Linked DNA regions of Homo sapiens. The protein of the gene in region 2 interacts with the protein of the main gene of each other region in a pairwise test. Each region holds a gene or a part of one and is shown on either strand. Other genes may lie near its edges.

Region 1 (4,557 bases), on a different chromosome or scaffold from region 2:
CCGCGTTGTTCTCTTTCATATTTTTTCCTGAGGATTGTTGAAAACTTTGTCTAAAGGACATATGGGAATTACCATGGGCTTGCCCTATTGTGTGTATTTGGACATGTTATGTAGATTTCCATTCCTTGTATTAGAAAATTCTAATAAAGATTCTCTGTCTGAGTCTGATGGTCCTAGTGGTATTCAGCACGAAGTGAGCTGTACTGTCTGGGATGAATTGAATTAGCGATTGTTCAGTGTCTGCCAACCCCAGTTTTTGGGTGCAGCGACTCTGGATTCGTAATCTTGTTCATTGCTCTGTCTCCTCCTTTAAGTGCAGTGTCTGGCATATAGTAGCGCTCAGTAAATACTTACGAACGAATGTATCATCAGGTGTTTAGAGTCTGTGCTGAGACTCAGGGTGAATACGCCACACCACGAAGAGATATTTCTAAGGAATGTCCATATTCTGACTGGAGTTGCTGTTGGAGCCACGGTAGAGCCATGTGGTGGTGAAAGGATTCTGGCTCTGCTGGTAAGGACTGGAGTTGTTTGACTTGGAGAAGGGAAGACTTATGGAGCTATGACAATTTTTCTTTTCTAATATTAGAAGGGTTGCGTAGAGAGGCACAAGTCTATCATCACTATTGGAAAACATTCTTAGAAATTATGCCCTGTTCTCCTGGTAGGGAGTCAATAGCTATTATAATTGTATTGCTTTTGCTTCATCTTTTATGCTAGGAAGTTACTATAGCTGTAAAAACAAAACAAAACAAAACAAAAAAACAAAAAACAAAAACGAGGCAGGTAGAATTTGGGAGAGAAATGTGAGGATGTTTAAGAATTTAAAGGATGTTTTTTGGGAAAGCTACCATACTTGCCCATTTTTTTTTTTTTATGGCAGAGGAGAGAAACTAAACTATATGTTGCATCATAGGCTAATTTTTGGCTCAATATCAACAAGGATGTTTCTCTTTTATATAGGTTAATATTACCTGCTTTAAAGCAGTCAAAAATGCATTTTAATATAATAGTTTCTTTAACAAGTTGTTTGCCTTTGGCAAAATATCCTATTTTATGCTTATTACCCACATCTTAAATTTCTTCACTTGGATAAACAAATCTGGATTTAGTCAATGACTTGTGGTTTATAACAGCCATATCACTTTTATATAAAAGATAATAGCTAAAGTCAGGCAGGTTTCAAACAAGATGCTACTTGGTTGCAGTGACCATGCCCTACATGTTGATTGTTAACTGACAAATTAGCCCTTTAAGACCACATAGTCCTTTAACCTTAAAAAATGATCTAGGCCATCTAAGTTTTTATTTTCTCATTTATAAAATGAGGAGGACAAGCATAAAAATATCCGCAAGAAATGTACTTTCACCTGTGGCTGCATGAAGAGTTTGGTGAATCCTTTCCACACACAAGTATAAAAATGGCAGAATTGCCCAAAACTATTTGAACTCTGGAAATCAACCAAAAGCAAAGAAAATCATTGAGAAACATTTATTCTTAGGAAAACTGTTAGATCTTCAGGTAAGAATAGTGCAAGTCTACAGCATTCTCGCGTGGGCTTCTACTGTGACCTCCTGTCCCAGCACTTTTGGCAAGAATTGTAGTTTGGAAAACCAGCAGCTTCGCTGTCAGACAGCTGATTCAATTTGGGGCAATGAGTAAAAACCTTTGTCGATAAAATGTACTGAACTTGGTAGGGGAAAACAAGGAAAAACCATGTATTTGCTAGTTTAAGGTTGTAGTGCCAGTTGGGGTGAGTGGAAGAGTAGCTATAAATTAAAAGGCAGACCCTGGAAATGAGAGAACCATAAAGGGATAACCTCTTCACATATCCTGGCATAACGTGAAACTATGCACATGTGTAGGGGAGACCTGAGGTTGTCTAACTGAGAGCAAGGGCCAAGGCAGATGAGAATTCTTTAAGCTTTGAATGTGCCCTTCTTAACCCAGATACAGATTAAAGAGCAGGCTCAAGCTGTTTGAGCATATCTTTGGCATGTACATAGCTGAAAACTAAGATATTCAGACACAGAATGACTTCTCTAGAAAGCCAGGCTAAAACATATATATGTGAATTAAAATCTGAACAGATGTAGTCACACTGCCCAGGACACAGATTCCACAGTTTAGGGCCAGACATGTTAAAAGGCTCAGAAATATAAAATTCTACACTGGTGGCCAGGTGCGGTGGCTCACGCCTGTAATCCCAGCTTGAACCCGTGGGTGGAGGTTGCAGTGAGCCGAGATCACACCGCTGCACTCCAGCCTGGCAACAGAGTGAGACTCTGTCTCAAAAAAAAAAAAAAAAAAAGAATATACACTGGCTATGTTATCCAAAATGTCCAGTTTTTAACAACAAATTTTAAGACACGTAAAGAGACAGAAAAATGTGACCCATGCTGAGGGAAAAAGAAAGCAGTTAATAGAAACTGACTGTGAGTGAGCCTAGATATTAGACTTAGCAAAGACTTCAAACTGCTATTATAAACATGGTAAAAGAAAGGAAACATTATTTAAATAATTACAGGAGAATATGATGACATTGACCCAACAAATTGGAAATCTCAATAAAGAAATGAGAGCTGTAAAAAAAGTTTTATTCTTTTTGATGCTATTATAAATGGAAGTGCTTTCTTAATTTCATCTTCAGATGATTCATTGCTAGTATATAAAAATATTTGCTTATTAGCTCTAAAATTAATTTTTGTGTTTATTCTCTGGGATTTTCTCTATATAAGACCATGACATCTGTGAATAGAGGATGTTTTAATTCCAGCTCCCCAATCTGGATGCCTTTTGTTTATATTCCATGTCTAATTGCCCTAGCCAGAATCTCCAGTACAATGTTGCATAGAAGTCATGATGCAGAAATCCTTGTTTTGTTTCTGATTTTGGGGAAAAACTTTTAGACTTTTACCATTAAGTATAATGATAACTAGGGGTTATTGGTAGATGCTCTTTCTCAGGTTGAGGAAGTGTTCTTTTATTCCTATATTTCTGAATGTTTTAATCAAGAAAGGGTATTAGATTTTGTCCAGTGCTTTTTCCTGAATCAGTTGAGATGATCATGTGTTTTGTTTTTGCTTTTTACCTTTATTCTATTAATATGGTGTGTTACATGGGTTTTTTTCATATGTTGAACCATCCTTGCATTCCTGGGATAAATCCTACTTGGTCATGGTGTATAACCCTTCTACTATACTGTGGATTTAGTTTCCTTATATTTTATTGAAGATTTTCACATCGGTATTCATAAGGGACATTGGTCTGTAGTTTTTTGAGATTTCTTTGCCTGGCTTTGGTATCAGGATATGCTGGCCTTATAGCATGAGTTGGGAAGTAGTATCCCATCCTCTCATTTTTGGAAGAATTTAAGATAGATTGGTGTTCATTCTTATTGAAGCATATTACTGGTGAGGCCATCTGGTCCTTGTCTTTTCTTTGTTGTAAGTTTTTTGTTTTTTATTACATATTCCATCTTTTTACGTGCTGTACATCTACTCAGATTTTCTATTTCCTTTGAGTCAGTTTTTATAGTTTATATTCTAGGAATTTGTCATCTATTTCATCAATTTGGTAGCATACAATTATAGTATTCTCTTATAATTGTGTACTTTTTGTAAGGTTGATATTAATGTTCCCATTTTTATACATGATTTTAAAATTTGAGTCTTCTCTCTTTATTCTTAGTCTAGCCAATTTTGTGTGTGTGTGTGTGTGTGTGTGTGTGCAGGGTCTCTGTCACCCAGGCTTGAGTGCAGTGGTGTGATCATAGCTTATAGCTATGTAAATGGAAGTGCAGCCTTAAACTCCTGGGCTCAAGTGACTTTCCCTCTTGTCAGCCTCCTGAGTAGCTGGGTGCACAGGCATGCTGGCGCATGCCTGGTTAATTTCTTAAATAATTTTTGTAGAGACAGGGTCTTGCTATGTTTTCCAGGCTGGTCTCAAACTCCTGGCTTCAAGCAGTCCTCCCACTTTGGCTTCCCAAAGTGCTGGGATTATAGGTGTCAACCATTGTGCTCGGCCTCATCATTTTAAAGAATAAACTTTTGGTTTTGTTGATCATCTATTATTTTTCTAGTCTATATTTCATTTGTATTAGCTGTATTTTTTCCCCCTTGTTTCTGCTTAGTTTGTATTGAGTTTTCTTTTTATAGTTTCTTGAGGTAGAAGTTTAGGTTGCCAATTCAAGATCTTTCTTCTTTTTAAATGTAGTTACTTGTTTCTGTATCCCATAGATTTTGCTATATGTGTTTGTTTTCATTAATTTCAAATTATTTTCTAGTTTTCTTTATGAGTTCTTCTTACTTGTTGATTGTTAAATTTTCATGTATTTGTGAAATTTCCAGATTTCCTCCTGTTAGTGATTTCCCCTCCTCTTTCCTCACCTCCCTTCTCCTCTTCTCTTTTCTTTCATTTTTTGAAACAGAGTCTCACTGTATCACCCAGGCTGGAGTGCAGTGGTGTGATCATGGCTCACTGCAACTTCTGCCTTCTGGGCTCAAGCAATCCTCCCACCTCAGCCTCTCTAGTACCTTGGATTAAAGGTGCACATG
Region 2 (4,557 bases):
CTATTCCTTTAAGAACAATTCTTGTTGTAAAGCAATATTTTTTTTTTGTTAAGTGGAGAACATTTGCAGGAAAAATATATTTTAAAGTCAATGAAAATAATCATGTGCAGAGTTCTTATGTATGCAAGCAATTATAACAGAATAATTTTGCCTGATAACATTCATGGCAACTACCAATAATTTTTACAAAACAAGGAAAAGAACTTCAGAAAAAATAAAACATTATTAAACGTTCATTAATCAGTGATTGAAGTATTTCTCCCCTCCCCCATAAATTCTATCATCACATCATCCAGCCTTAACAAATTTTGGCTTTGCACATTGGCATGATTATTGTATTTCTGTTTTTCACCAAGAGACAAGTTTTTAATATAATAGAATCCCTAAATATCAGGTTTCATTTTACAATCAATGCTTTTAACCAGGTTGCAGTTGTAATGCAGTTTAAATTGCCCGTGCAATGTGTATTGTATCATAGCTTCATATTTGCCTTTCTTTAATTGAGTTATATGCAATGTTGGTGCTACATTTGTTACTAAAGAATGTTTTCTAACAGCTTACTGTACTTGATGTTATAAGAAAAATAATTTTGTATACAGAAAGCCAAGGAAAAAAACAGGGTATAATTTTAATATTAATGAAATAAATATTTTTAACTGTCTTGTTTTCAACCCCGTGCTTTTTTTTTTTTTTTTTTTTTTTTTTAGTACAGACAGGGTTTCACCATGTTGGCCAGGATGGTCTTGATCTCTTGACCTCGTGATCCGCCCACCTCGGCCTCCCAAAGTGCTGGGATTACAGGCGTGAGCCACAGCGCCCAGCCCCCATGCTTTTTTCTTAAGTAAAAACCCAATGCTTTATAAAATCTAGAGAGGGAATATACCTATGTGTGGATGACACTGAATCATTGAGAAAAATGCAAAAGGACTGTCTGTCAAATGCCAAACAAGGCAACTGAACACAAAATAAATTGCAATGAGAGGCTGGTGTGACTTACTAATGGATCACACAGGCTGAAATAAGTGAATGTGGTTTATTTGTTTTAAATCAGCATCAGGTGTTTTGTTTTTCATTTCTTAGTGGTGTATTAAATAATAATATGTTTTAAAATTAGTATTTTCTTGCATTTGATGAAATACAGGCTATATGCTATTGTAAAGAAATGAGAGGAAGACAATTAAAAGGTAACAATGAACTTATTATAATGTGCACAGTCGACTGATTAATCACTAGATTTTCCATCCTTTCATCCTCATTAGGAATTCTATGGATAGGTAATAAGCTAGCTGCATGACAACTAAATTGCGCAGAATCTGACATAATTACATGAGTTTCAGGAGGCTTAATTCTGATTTTGAGAAAGATGTGGCTAGACACATGCATTAAAATTACCTTCAGGGATCTCAAATTCTTCAGAGGTAATAAACATTGGTTAACATCATAATATGGAAATTATTTTCCTCTGGGCCAAGGCAACCAAATCCATATATATATATATGTGTGTATATATGTATATGTATATGTGTATATATACATATATGTACACACATATATATACATATATATACACATATATATACACATATATATACACACATATATACATATATACACATATATACACATATATATACATATATACATATACACACATATATACATATATATACACACATATATACATATATATACATATATATATACCCAAATCAGATCTATCTATATCTATCTATCTTAGATTCCCATCCTTCCGATCCAAATGCATATGCCAAAATGTATTTTAATATTTTGTGTTAAGAGGATGTTTCCTATGTACTTCTAAACATATTCCAAAACATGTAGCATAAAATAAACCTAGAATTTTAGAATTGGAAAGCAACTGAATGATTGTTAGAGTTTCTTCAAGATCTAAATTCTATTGTCTTACATTTTATTCATTTCATTCAGTGAGTGGACTTAGAAACTGAAGCCCAGAATAATTAATTTATTCATTCCATGTTACACAGTTCAATGGTAGCACAACTAGAGTCTTTTGGCTTCAGGTTCAGTGTTCTTTCTATTAGCTCAAATTGTCCTATAATATACTAAAGACACAATAGGGTAATTAGTGTAGTGTATGGTATGATATGCCTCCTACTTTTCCCTTTCTCTGCCTCAAACAAATACACTTTCAAGACTGAAGTCTTAATTTTTCCTGTTGCTGAGAGTGTTGGCAACTGATAGCTCTCAAGTAAATTTCTCTCCAATAATTTCTCTGCTTAAAAAAAAAAAGCAAAACCAAAAAAACCTACTCATCCAATACTATAGCCCTTCCCAGGGCCTGCCAATGTCCAATAACTGGATGATGGGATATAAGACTCCCACCGACTTGCCTGAATTGGAGACCACTATTAAGAACCATCCCAAATTCAGACCTCCCTATGTGATCAGTCGAGATAGTGTAATTGCACAGAATTTAATTTCTCACTCTGCCTGACTCTGCTTTCTTCATTCTCTATAGTTGTTGGCCTAAGAACACTCCCCAATACATTTCACAAACATCTGTCTCACAGTCTGTGTTCTGTGGAACCAAACTACAACAATAAATATAAAATTACTTGAATTTTCTAGAGAAAGTGACTTTCTTTTTAAAATAGAGATAAAAGTGTTCCAAGTGATTAGGTTCTAAAAGATGAAATAAATACCTCTCAAAGTAGTTTCAAGGTCTGTTAGTTACATTATATTGTTACTGTGATGATGATGATTATTGTTGTGATTAAGGTAACTACATTCCAGGTAATTAGGCATTTTATAATCAAGGAGGTCATTAAATATTTGTAATAATCCTTTATGAAGATATGGATATAAATATAAAACTTCATTTCTCAGATGAGGAAATTGGCAGCTTAGGAAGCTTAGGTAACTTGCCATGTTCACTAAACTAGAAAGTGTCTGACTTGAAGCTGACTTAAGGTAGCATTTGGGTCTTATATGAACAGCCCTATTTCACATGATGTATGCAGCACCTTGTCCTCAGTGTGGCCAATAAATATTTATCACAAGAATAAATGAATTCATATATATCTGACCCTACCCATATGATTAACCCCTGCACAATGCAATCTCCTATGTCCACTATGAGCTTTGGAGATAATAGTAAATATCACAGAGAACTTAAAAAAAAAAAAAAAAAAAAAAAACCAAGGGCAAAAAAACTAACATGTCAAAAACAAACTATGCTAAATAAACATAAATGGTTGATTTAAATGTGTATTTTCCTTTAAAAATTGAGAGTAAGAAGCCCCATCTTGCTTCTTTTGATAGTAGATCCACATGTGCCTTCTAAGTACCAGATACTGTACCAGAGAAGGGGTGCTGAGGCTGCCTGTGTGACTGAATTATTTGATCCTTTTCAATATGTCTTTTTAAAACTGTATATTCAATTTAATATAATATGCCAGGAGAATTAAAATGATCACATAAAGAAAACAATGAATATTCCCTCAAAGGTAATATTAAAATAGTGGAAATGAAGTCTACTCCTACCATTTCTACTTTCCTAGGCAGCATCTGTTGAAATAGAAATGAAAAAGAAATGTAACCACTGGTGTTATCATTATGGACTTATTAATGTTGCATTCATCCCCAATTTTTTCCACAATATTTCATAAGCAGCACCCATGATATGTCTAACATTTGGCCACAGATATTGAGCACAAGGTTGATTTGGGGGTTGGTTGGTAACAATTAAATAAACATATAAGTTTACAGGGATGGAGGAAAAAGAAAAGATCACATTTCTAATAGGTCCATAGCCTAGAGTATTGGGAAAGAGCCAAGAAGAAGAAAGTGAGCTAGACAAGTTCCCAAATGACGAAAATGGAATCAAAATAGTTTATTCCTTTTACTCCTAAAAAGTCTGAGGCATCTCTTGTGAGTCTTACAATGTTTCCTTTCTACACCAAATTACCAACCTACCTATGTCTACTCCAAATCTAAGGAAAAGTTAAAACAGCATATTAGAATTCACAGAGGGGGGTCTGCTGTAAGTAGCTTATCACAAAAATATAAATAAGTAAAGATGACATCACAAACATCAAGACAATAAAAAGGAAAGATGACATCACAGACATCAAGACAATAAAAAGGAAAGGCCTGAGTAGCAAAATCCTTCCCTCTGAAATCACTGAGTTTAAGGACGCCTAGTGGGTCTTTGTTTTGTAGAAAAGAAAAGGAGGGAGACTTATTTCAATAATAATCATTTTGAGGCATCAGCTCATATTACAATGTTTTTCTGCACGTAATTAATTTTAGAAAAATGTGATGAAGTTTTGAAAAATTCCTATGGAAATACTCGAGGAAGAAGGAACTGGTAGATAATCAAGCAGACGGCCTGTCCTACACTAGCTTAGGATAAAATCAAACTCTGTGCTACAATTTTCCAGTCTGTATAACGGGAATAAAAGAAACTACCTCAAAAGACTCTTGTGAAGAGTGAATATATGAGAGCAATAGCAGAGTGTTGGAAATACACACCCAATAAATATTATGTATTATCTCAAACTTTATTCAGCAAAT
Region 3 (4,203 bases), on a different chromosome or scaffold from region 2:
AAAGTAATGTACATATGGCTGGATTTTTTTGCTTGCTATTCGTTTTTGTGTCACTTGGCATGAGATGTTTATTTTGGACTATTGTATATAATGTATTGTAATATTTGAAGCACAAATGTAATACAGTTTTATTGTGTTACCATTTGTGTTCCATTTGCTTCTTTGTATTGTTGCATTTAGTACAATCAGTGTTTAAACTTACTGTATATTTATGCTTTCTGTATTTACCAGCTATTTTAAATGAGCTGTAACTTTCTAGTAAAGAATTGAAAAGCAAATCTCACTAATGATACACAGATAGATAAAGCAAGTCTATCAACATTAAAAATACTAAAAAATAAAGACACACACAGAGCATTTTAGTGACATCCACTACTTATTGCCGCTATGAGTTAGAGTCTATCAGTGTTCTTGTTATAACCCCCTATTTTCAGGGGGTTAAAAATCAGCTTTAAAAAAATACATAAAAATTTCATCTTAAAGCACTTTCATTTTATACCAACGTGAAAAGTGCCATTTTTAGAATAACTTTAAAGCTTAACAGGTTTCCTTTTAATATCCTTTTTTTGTGTGCTCTTTACTTACACAATGGCTTTGTTTTGCTTTTTCAGCCACACCCCTTATGTGAACTAGTGCCTTTGGGTATCACGTAAAATTTTTTCCAAAGGGTTACTTTAAAAATCTGTTACCACAATTATGAGATGATTTTTAAGTGATAAATTAAACTTCTTCTTGTATAAATTCTGCCCAGATCTCTCCACAAGAGCTGAGGGTTTCATAACTTTATGGCTTAATAAATGTATGACACTGAAAAGATTTGAGTGTGAATCTACTGAAATCACTATAATGCACATTGAAGCTATGATGGTATTTGAGTAGTGAGGTTACTTTTGATCGGAGCAACATAATGCTCATAGAATCTTCTAGAAGAAGAGAAACAAAGGGATTGATAAAATGCTGAGAACTAGTGATTATATATTTTTCTGTATTTACCTGACATTTATTTTAATGTTCAAAAAGTAAACACTTTAAGTTTGATGTGTTTTACTCTCTCATTGTTTTAAGTAATTGCCAACTCAGAATACATCATTCTTAGGCTGAAATTTGTCTTTCCATTTTTTAAGGTGAAATAGTACTACCTTACGTGATAGCATACAAAGAAGAAAGCTCTAGAAAGAGAAATTATGGAGAATGATTATTTAAATTACAATTAAGGAAATGAGAATATGATCCCCTCTTCCGAGTTGCCCACAAACTTGCTTCTTTGCTTTTGCTCCCTGTAATAGAACTACTTTTCAACAAATCTAATTTTGCACGGCACCGTTAACCATATTTTCACTACAGCAAACTTAGTGCTATGGGTTTTCTTTTTCTTTGTTTTTTTCTTGATCACTTGTATAGGAAACAATATTTTCCAGTGTTATTTGCATATATATTTTGTCCTTCCAATATATGCATTACAGATGAAAATTAAATGTTATACCTGAATTCTTGGGTTGGGGCCAAAATATTAAGCTGAAAATAATGCTGGTGTGGATTTGTTTTAAAACAAAGCTTTATTATGAACATGCATGTGAATCTGGATATTGCCTCTTATTTTTAAGAAAATGGTTCTGTGAAAAGTGAATGATATGTATTTTTCCAAATGCTTCATGGTTAGGAGTCTTCAAGTTCCATGTTCCCCAGATTTGAGATATACTAAAGAAAGAAATTCAAAAGTAGCTATTTGGGGCCCACAAAAATAACTATTATTTTAGCCTTAGAGCCTTACACTTGTTTCATGAAGAGAAAGGACTTGCATAACCAAAATAAACAAAGCAAGACAAATTAAAAATATGTGGGGGAGAGATCAGTGAAAAGTGGTTTTCTTAATGCAGCCCTGCTGGTCCCCATTAACAATTGCTTGAAATTCACATGGATGTAAAATTATAATTGTCAGGATCTTATTCAGATGATCTTTTAAGGTTTAACTGGTTTTGCTTTTGTTTATCTATATGTCAAAATACTTGTAAATTGGGAACAAACTTCTCTCAGCTTCTTGAAGTTGTTCAACTATCCTTGCCACTGGAAGACCAAACAAGGTTTTCACTGCTTTTTCTTTTACATAATATGCTGAGAATTATTTCTTATGCTTTTTACTACAAACAAAATTACTCACCTGGATTAAAGATTAAGGCCTTAATCTGTTTAGATTATCTTTAATCTCCATGAAATCGTGAAATAAGACAAGAATAGTGTTTCAGCTGTAGGCCATTTTACAGCTAATTGCCCATAAATTGTAGCATTTATTGACCTGAAGTACTAAGCTAATTGTCTTGACTACTCAAAGCCCCTGAATTGTTGTCAACTTTCCCCTTTGTGTTGTGTAGCCCTAACGTCATTTAGCTTGTTGTCTGATGCCTCCAGTAGGACACCTCCGATGGAGCTTTGATTTCTGAGCAGCGAAAGCTCCCTTCCTAAGATGCATCTCGCATAGGCTGCCTATGATGAAGGACCGTGCACCTCCACTCCAACAGAGTGCTGAGTTTAAAAGTTGACCTGTGTTTGTAATTTCACTTTCATCTTGCTTAATAAATATCTGCTGGATTCTTTCATTCACTTTTTTACATTTGGATTTATGTTTTTAATAAAAGGGGTGTTACACTATTTGATTGCACTTAATTGGCAAAATTTAAGATGATCTCTAGAAAGCATATGTTAAGTCCATGAAAAGAAAAAAAAGGTGTGTAAGGACATTTACTTTCTAAAGCTAAGTCATAACAAGCATAGACAAAGCACCCCAAATGTTTCTCTGAATGTAATGTTTAGGATCTCTGCGCTAGGTCGTTTACCGCTATTTATTTTTATGGGGAAAATAAAACTCTCAAAAATGAAGGTAGCAATTGCTGGGTGTAATTTTGCACATTTATACAAATTTTAGGTGATCTTTCTGAAAGCAACTCTGTTGCTGTTGTCAGATTAAATTTCAAATTTTCTATTCTGTATAATGAATTAAAACAGGAAACTCAATTCTACATTTTTACAGAAGAGATGTTGCACCTTAACTGAAACAGGGCACTGAAAATTATATCTGTAGTAAAACATGCCATGCAAAAGTGTTTTCCTTTTAACTATCACTTTAGGCAAACCACTCTCTGAATCATCACTTAAACAGTTTCGTAGAAATTATGTAGGCCAAACATGTTTAGTGTTCACTTCAGTAAGTTGCAAAAACAATCTGCATGTTTATTGTAATAGGCCATTAGCACAAAATACAATTTTAGCAAAAGCCTTTTTGATCATTACTTTTTCTTAAAAACATTGTTATATTTTTTAAATGTGGTTTTAATGTAATTTAAGGTAATAGAAAGCAGAGATTTAATAGTCATTAGTTTAATTGACATTTATTGCGCACCTACTATGTGACAGGCCTCTCCCTGAGCATTCAGCCTCCTGTTGGGCAGACTTAGGGTTGGCCTAGATCAAATAACTTTAACATGTCTTTGCACTGGTTTGTGCTCATCTCCAACCTGCTAATAATGAGCACACAAAAGCGAATAGCATCTTCTACCTCTCCAGCATGTTATTGATATGAAAGCCCCAGAAAATATCTCAAGTAATCAATGTGTTCAGAGAATTATCGCACACAAATTACTCATTAACTCAATAGCACATGATAAAAAAGAACATCAATTAATTAATGAGTCACCCTCAGATTGCTATGATTACAATAGAGCTCTGTTGAAATAGCGGTTATAAATGAAGCTGCCTCTCTTTATTCGTTGTTTGCAACTGGTCCATTATTTGGCTGAAACCAGTGTCAAGTTTAACACATGCCTGTAGGTAATTGTGTGATTAGTATCATAAACGAAGATTTCAGAATGCCTAGGGTTTATAAAACCTTATGAATGGCCAGAAAAATGAAGAAAATTCATTTTTACTAGAGCTTCCTTTGAGGCCATGCTATTAGAAAAGTATTATTCAGAAAGGTATATTTTTACTTTTATAATCAAGATGTAAGACTTTCGTGTTGAACAGTACAAAGAATAGCTGCTAAAACACTTGAGTCAATTTTACAACGCTTTAGTATACACACGATTTAATTTCAGTAACTTTTCCTGAAGACTAAAATATGCATGATCATTGCCAGTTTTGCATTTTGGTACCACAAAATGACATTTTTTTGCTTTTGGCAGGCTTGGTTGGGGTGGGTTTGTGGATAAT
Region 4 (4,557 bases), on a different chromosome or scaffold from region 2:
CGGGAAGGTTTGTCAAGCTGAGTTTACCTTTTCAAGGCTTCATTATGCTCACTTACTAACCTGTCACTTTACTACTCAAAAAATTATCACTTAAAACATTCAGGACTTACCCTTTGTCGAAGAAAGATGTATGCCCTGATCGAGAGAACTTTGTGCCATTGCCATTCAGCACCCCACAGTTAACATTCCCTGAAATATAGGATTTTCGTGATGCTTGGTCCTTTGCAAAATTCCTGCAAGCTGCTAATTTGGATTCTAAAGCCTACAAAAAAGAAGGAGGAATGATATGGTTGTCAAAACAGTAGCTGCACATAAAAATTTGCATTTCAAACCATTTCTATTTCAAGCCTCAAAACTTACTCATCTCAGTTGATAATGGTGGTTAGTTCAGCCATAATCAATCAACTTTCTAATAAAAAGGGGGAATACTTATGCTCCCTTTCTAATGACCTCAGAATATTTTGTTTCCTCCTCTTAGCGTTACTGAAGGAAATACATATAATCTTCCCCTTACAACTAAAAAAAGTGTGGTACAGGAGGTGGAACAGCAGATCCCAGGTCTCTTGACCCTATCCATTGCTCGTTTCTAAGCTGTAGACTGTTAGTTGGTGTTGGGGGGCAGGGTGTGTTTTGGGAGCAAGCACTATTAAAAAACCCAAAAATATCACTTGAGAATTTTTTTTACGGCAGCCAATTCTTTCTCTAGGTTCTTCATTTTTTCTACTGCATGAGAATGGATGAGAACATTTACAACACTTTACATGAAATTAAAAGCTATTTTATTTCTGACAGCACTCTGTAAAATGTTTAACTGATACCCTTTGTCTGTAATTAAATAATTCACCCGCAAATGACACTGGCCTTTTAGCATTTACCTCTAAATTGGGCACCCTTGTTTTGCACCTGTCACCACAACACCTGGCAAGCACAGGGCTCTACCAACGCAGATGACATGGAGAGATCAGGCGTTTCTCATGTATTTCCACACACTCACACTTCACCAGCTGTCTCTTTCCCATAAACACTTTGCCCAAATCAAACCCCTCCTTCTCCGAAAAGAAAAATACTATCCATGGCAAAATATATATATACACAATTCATGTCTATTATCCATGACAGTAAAGGACTGGGAATGCACAGCTAAATTAAATCCACAGGTAACATATACTTCACTTTGAGAATCCATTTGGACCTCCTCCCCCCACATTTCAATAACAGCTATTCAGAAACAGCAACAATGGTTGGGTGCAGTGGCTCATTCCTGTAATCCCAGCACTTTAGGAGGCCAAGGCAGGTGGATCACTTGAGGCCATGAGTTCGAGACCAGCCTGGCCAAGATGGTAAAACCCTGTCTCTACTAAAGAAAAAATAAAAAAATTAGCTGGGTGTGGTGGCATGCACCTGTAATCCCAGCTACGCAGGAGGCTAAGGCACAAGAATCACTGGAACCCAGGAAGCAGAGATTGCTGTGAGCCTTGATAGCACCACTGCACTACAGCCTGGGCGACAGAGTGAGACTCTGTCTCAAAAAAAAGAAACAGCAACAAAAACAGACAAACTTTTTTCTTCTCCTTCTTTCCTATGACAAAAGTACAATGACCTACTAAAATGACAACAGAAAAAAGGAAGAGAGGTAATGACCTTGTAAAACAAACTCTGAATAAGCATAATTCAGCAATAATTCAGCAGCTTATTAAAGCTACACACACACACACACACACAGTAGAAATTGAGAGCCATTCAATTCCTATATTCAAGACACGCATTCATTCAAATCCATATTGAGTATCTATCACACGGCAGGCACAACTTATGTCTGAGACATCAGTGAGACATCCAAGCACGAGCACCAGGTCTTTTGAGGGGGGAAAGGGTGGTCTAGAGATTAAGATTTGAAAGACATCCACACCCAGGGGTGGATGAAACTATGGCTGTGATTAAGATCAGAAAATCAAGGACAGAACTCTGAGTAAAACCAATATCGAAAGGGTGAGCAGATGAAGACCCAACAAGATGACTAAGAGGAATGGAAAGAAAGTTGGGAGCAGCCATGAAACAGCATCAGAGAAGGAGAGAAAAGAGGGCATTAAAAAAAAAAAACGGTCAGTGTTGAATGCTTCAAGTAAAATTAGGACAGAACGGCATCCACAGGATTTGACAGCACTGAGATCACCAGTGAGCAGTTTTAGCGGCATAAGCAGGGGACAGAGCCCAGGCTAAAGTGTCTGGGGCGTGTGCATGCAGTCAAAATGCTAACAATAAATGGGGACACGCTTTCAAGAAGCTTTAAAGTATGTAATATGTACCACATAAGTATTACATATATTTATATGGATAACATGTAATACAGAAATATCAAAGTATACCTGTATAACACATAACATATAATGTGTAATACATAAACATTATACATAAATATTAACGCATATATAGTAAAAGGCTGAAATACAGGAGAAATAAAGATTTAAGGGTTGGAAGAAATGAGATCCAAAGCACAGATGGACAAAATTAGCCACGGACAGGAATTTGCACTTTTACCACTGGGACAAAAAGGAGGAATGGCTACAAATAGAGGTAATAATAGGAGAGTAATAACAAAAGATGAGAAAAGAAATCAAAGAAGCTTAAAACAAATGGCCTTGATTTTCTCTGTGAAGGCATGCAAGAGTGGAGAAGGGCTTCCAGTTCAAGTCAGTGGACAAAGTCGTGTAAAGAGGCATAAATGAAATATTCATAAAAGCCAACAAGGGCTGGTGGACACCAGCAGACCCAAAGTGTTGATGACTTTTGGAGGTCGTTATTTTGATAACTCTTAGAAGACGGATTGTCAGCTGAATGTGTAAACCATACAAGGATGCCAAATTAAACTTTCATGCACCACTTCTGAATAAATTAAAGTACTAAAGCAAAACAAACAAGGAACAAAGACAGACAACAACGTGGGGTGAGGAACAGGCAGAACTAACCCAAGAGTAAAATGGAGAGAAATTCGAGGGCGACAACAATGCAGCAGCCCTCGAAGCCCATCAGGGCATCCCACAAAGAGTGTGAAGAAGAAGCTAGAAGATCCGAGAGCAAAGAAAGGTGTAGGTTTCTTCTACTCAAAAGAAAGAAGGGGAAACAGAAATGCTAGGAAAAGAAAGCAGCGTACAGTCAGCTACAATACGAAATATTTAAAAACCCAGTATGATTTTGAGTAAATTACAGTTAAAGAACAAAATTCTCAAAACACATTTGTTGAATGGCACAAATATAAAGACCCATCTGAAAGTCCAGCATCTCCTCTGTGATTACACAGTAAATAACACATATATGTGCATTGTTACAAATGCTGTTTGACTACTTTTCCATTTTTAGAACCAACCAACAGAGAGCTCACACAGCTAGTAGAGGGCTCAGAAAAGGAAAGCGGAGTGGGAGTGTGGTGGGGAAGAAAGGGAGAGAACAGCGAGTTAAGATATAGTCTAATACTGGCCAGACATGGTGGCTCATGCCTGTAATCCCAGCACTTTGGCAGGCCAAGGCAGGCAGATCACCTGAAGTCAGGCGTTCAAGACCAGCATGGCCAACATGGTGAAACCCCGTCTCTACTAAAAATACAAAAATTAGCCAGGTGTGGTGGCATGTGCCTGTAATCCCAGCTACTCAGGAGGCTGATGCAGGAGAATCGCTTGAACCTGGGAGGCAGAGGTTGCAGTGAGCTGAGATCGTGCCGCTGCACTCCAGCCTTGGCAACAAAGCGAGACTCCGTTCTCAAAAAAAAAAAAAAAAAAAAAAAGATATAACCTAATACATTCAGAAACAAAAGTTCAAGAATGTTAAAGTAATTTTTTTAAAAGAACAAAAAATAAAAATAAAAATATCTTTGCTTAAAGTTGAGTAAATCAAGATAAACAGAAAAATAAGCACATGATTTCAAGTTATAAAGACAAATACTCCAACATAGAGGATTTTAAAATGGTTATCTTGGGAGTGAAGAAAGATTACTCTATGTACTGTAGGAACGACCTGTGCACTTTACTTTGTATTTTAACCTTAAAAATGCAGGTTTAATCTGATGGTTAGAAAATAACCCCTATGATGAGCTGAAACAGGCAAACATAGGACCTGTGTCTTGGCCTCCCATATCTGCTTTAGATAAAGTATAATGCAATTTCTACATTTTTTAGAAAGTGTCACACACGAAAATAAGTGAAGGGGGTAGTAGATAGTGGGAAATGGCAATGGTTGATTACTGAAAGGAGAGGTAAAACTCACTAAGGGAAATAGTAATGGGAGCTAATGCTAGAAATGCTGACTTGATAGTGGCATAAATCCACATGGTTCTGCAACTGTTTCCAGTAATTCAGACTGCAGATCTCCTTTGTGGCCAGAGAGACCATGAAGTCAACAGTGACAGAGTAAGAGATGTGTGAGATCACAGATGAATAGAAAGGAAGTGAAAGCAAGAGATGGCTGATAAAAACAAACACACTAAAAAATGGGGTAATACTCTTGATGAGGTTAAAGAGTAGGTATGGTACACAGTAACACACTGATTAAGCAGAAAAACGGGTT

What was found.
Region 1: the proteins of CCSER1 (region 2) and FBXL17 interact in a two-hybrid assay, tested with the Homo sapiens proteins (one large-scale study listed by BioGRID).
Region 3: the proteins of CCSER1 (region 2) and LMO3 interact in binary tests that used the Homo sapiens proteins (3 or more experiments, as listed by UniProt).
Region 4: the proteins of CCSER1 (region 2) and NDEL1 interact in binary tests that used the Homo sapiens proteins (3 or more experiments, as listed by UniProt).

Annotation. Positions count from the first base shown.
Region 1 is NC_000005.10:108,374,542-108,379,098, reverse strand, and holds part of FBXL17 (F-box/LRR-repeat protein 17), read left to right. Parts: intron 1-4,557. UniProt on the Homo sapiens protein: Substrate-recognition component of the SCF(FBXL17) E3 ubiquitin ligase complex, a key component of a quality control pathway required to ensure functional dimerization of BTB domain-containing proteins (dimerization quality control, DQC).
Region 2 is NC_000004.12:91,592,789-91,597,345, forward strand, and holds part of CCSER1 (serine-rich coiled-coil domain-containing protein 1), read left to right. Parts: intron 1-4,557.
Region 3 is NC_000012.12:16,546,815-16,551,017, reverse strand, and holds the end of LMO3 (LIM domain only protein 3), read left to right. Parts: 3' UTR 1-2,646; downstream 2,647-4,203.
Region 4 is NC_000017.11:8,455,714-8,460,270, reverse strand, and holds part of NDEL1 (nuclear distribution protein nudE-like 1), read right to left. Parts: intron 263-4,557; coding exon 111-262; intron 1-110. UniProt on the Homo sapiens protein: Required for organization of the cellular microtubule array and microtubule anchoring at the centrosome. May regulate microtubule organization at least in part by targeting the microtubule severing protein KATNA1 to the centrosome.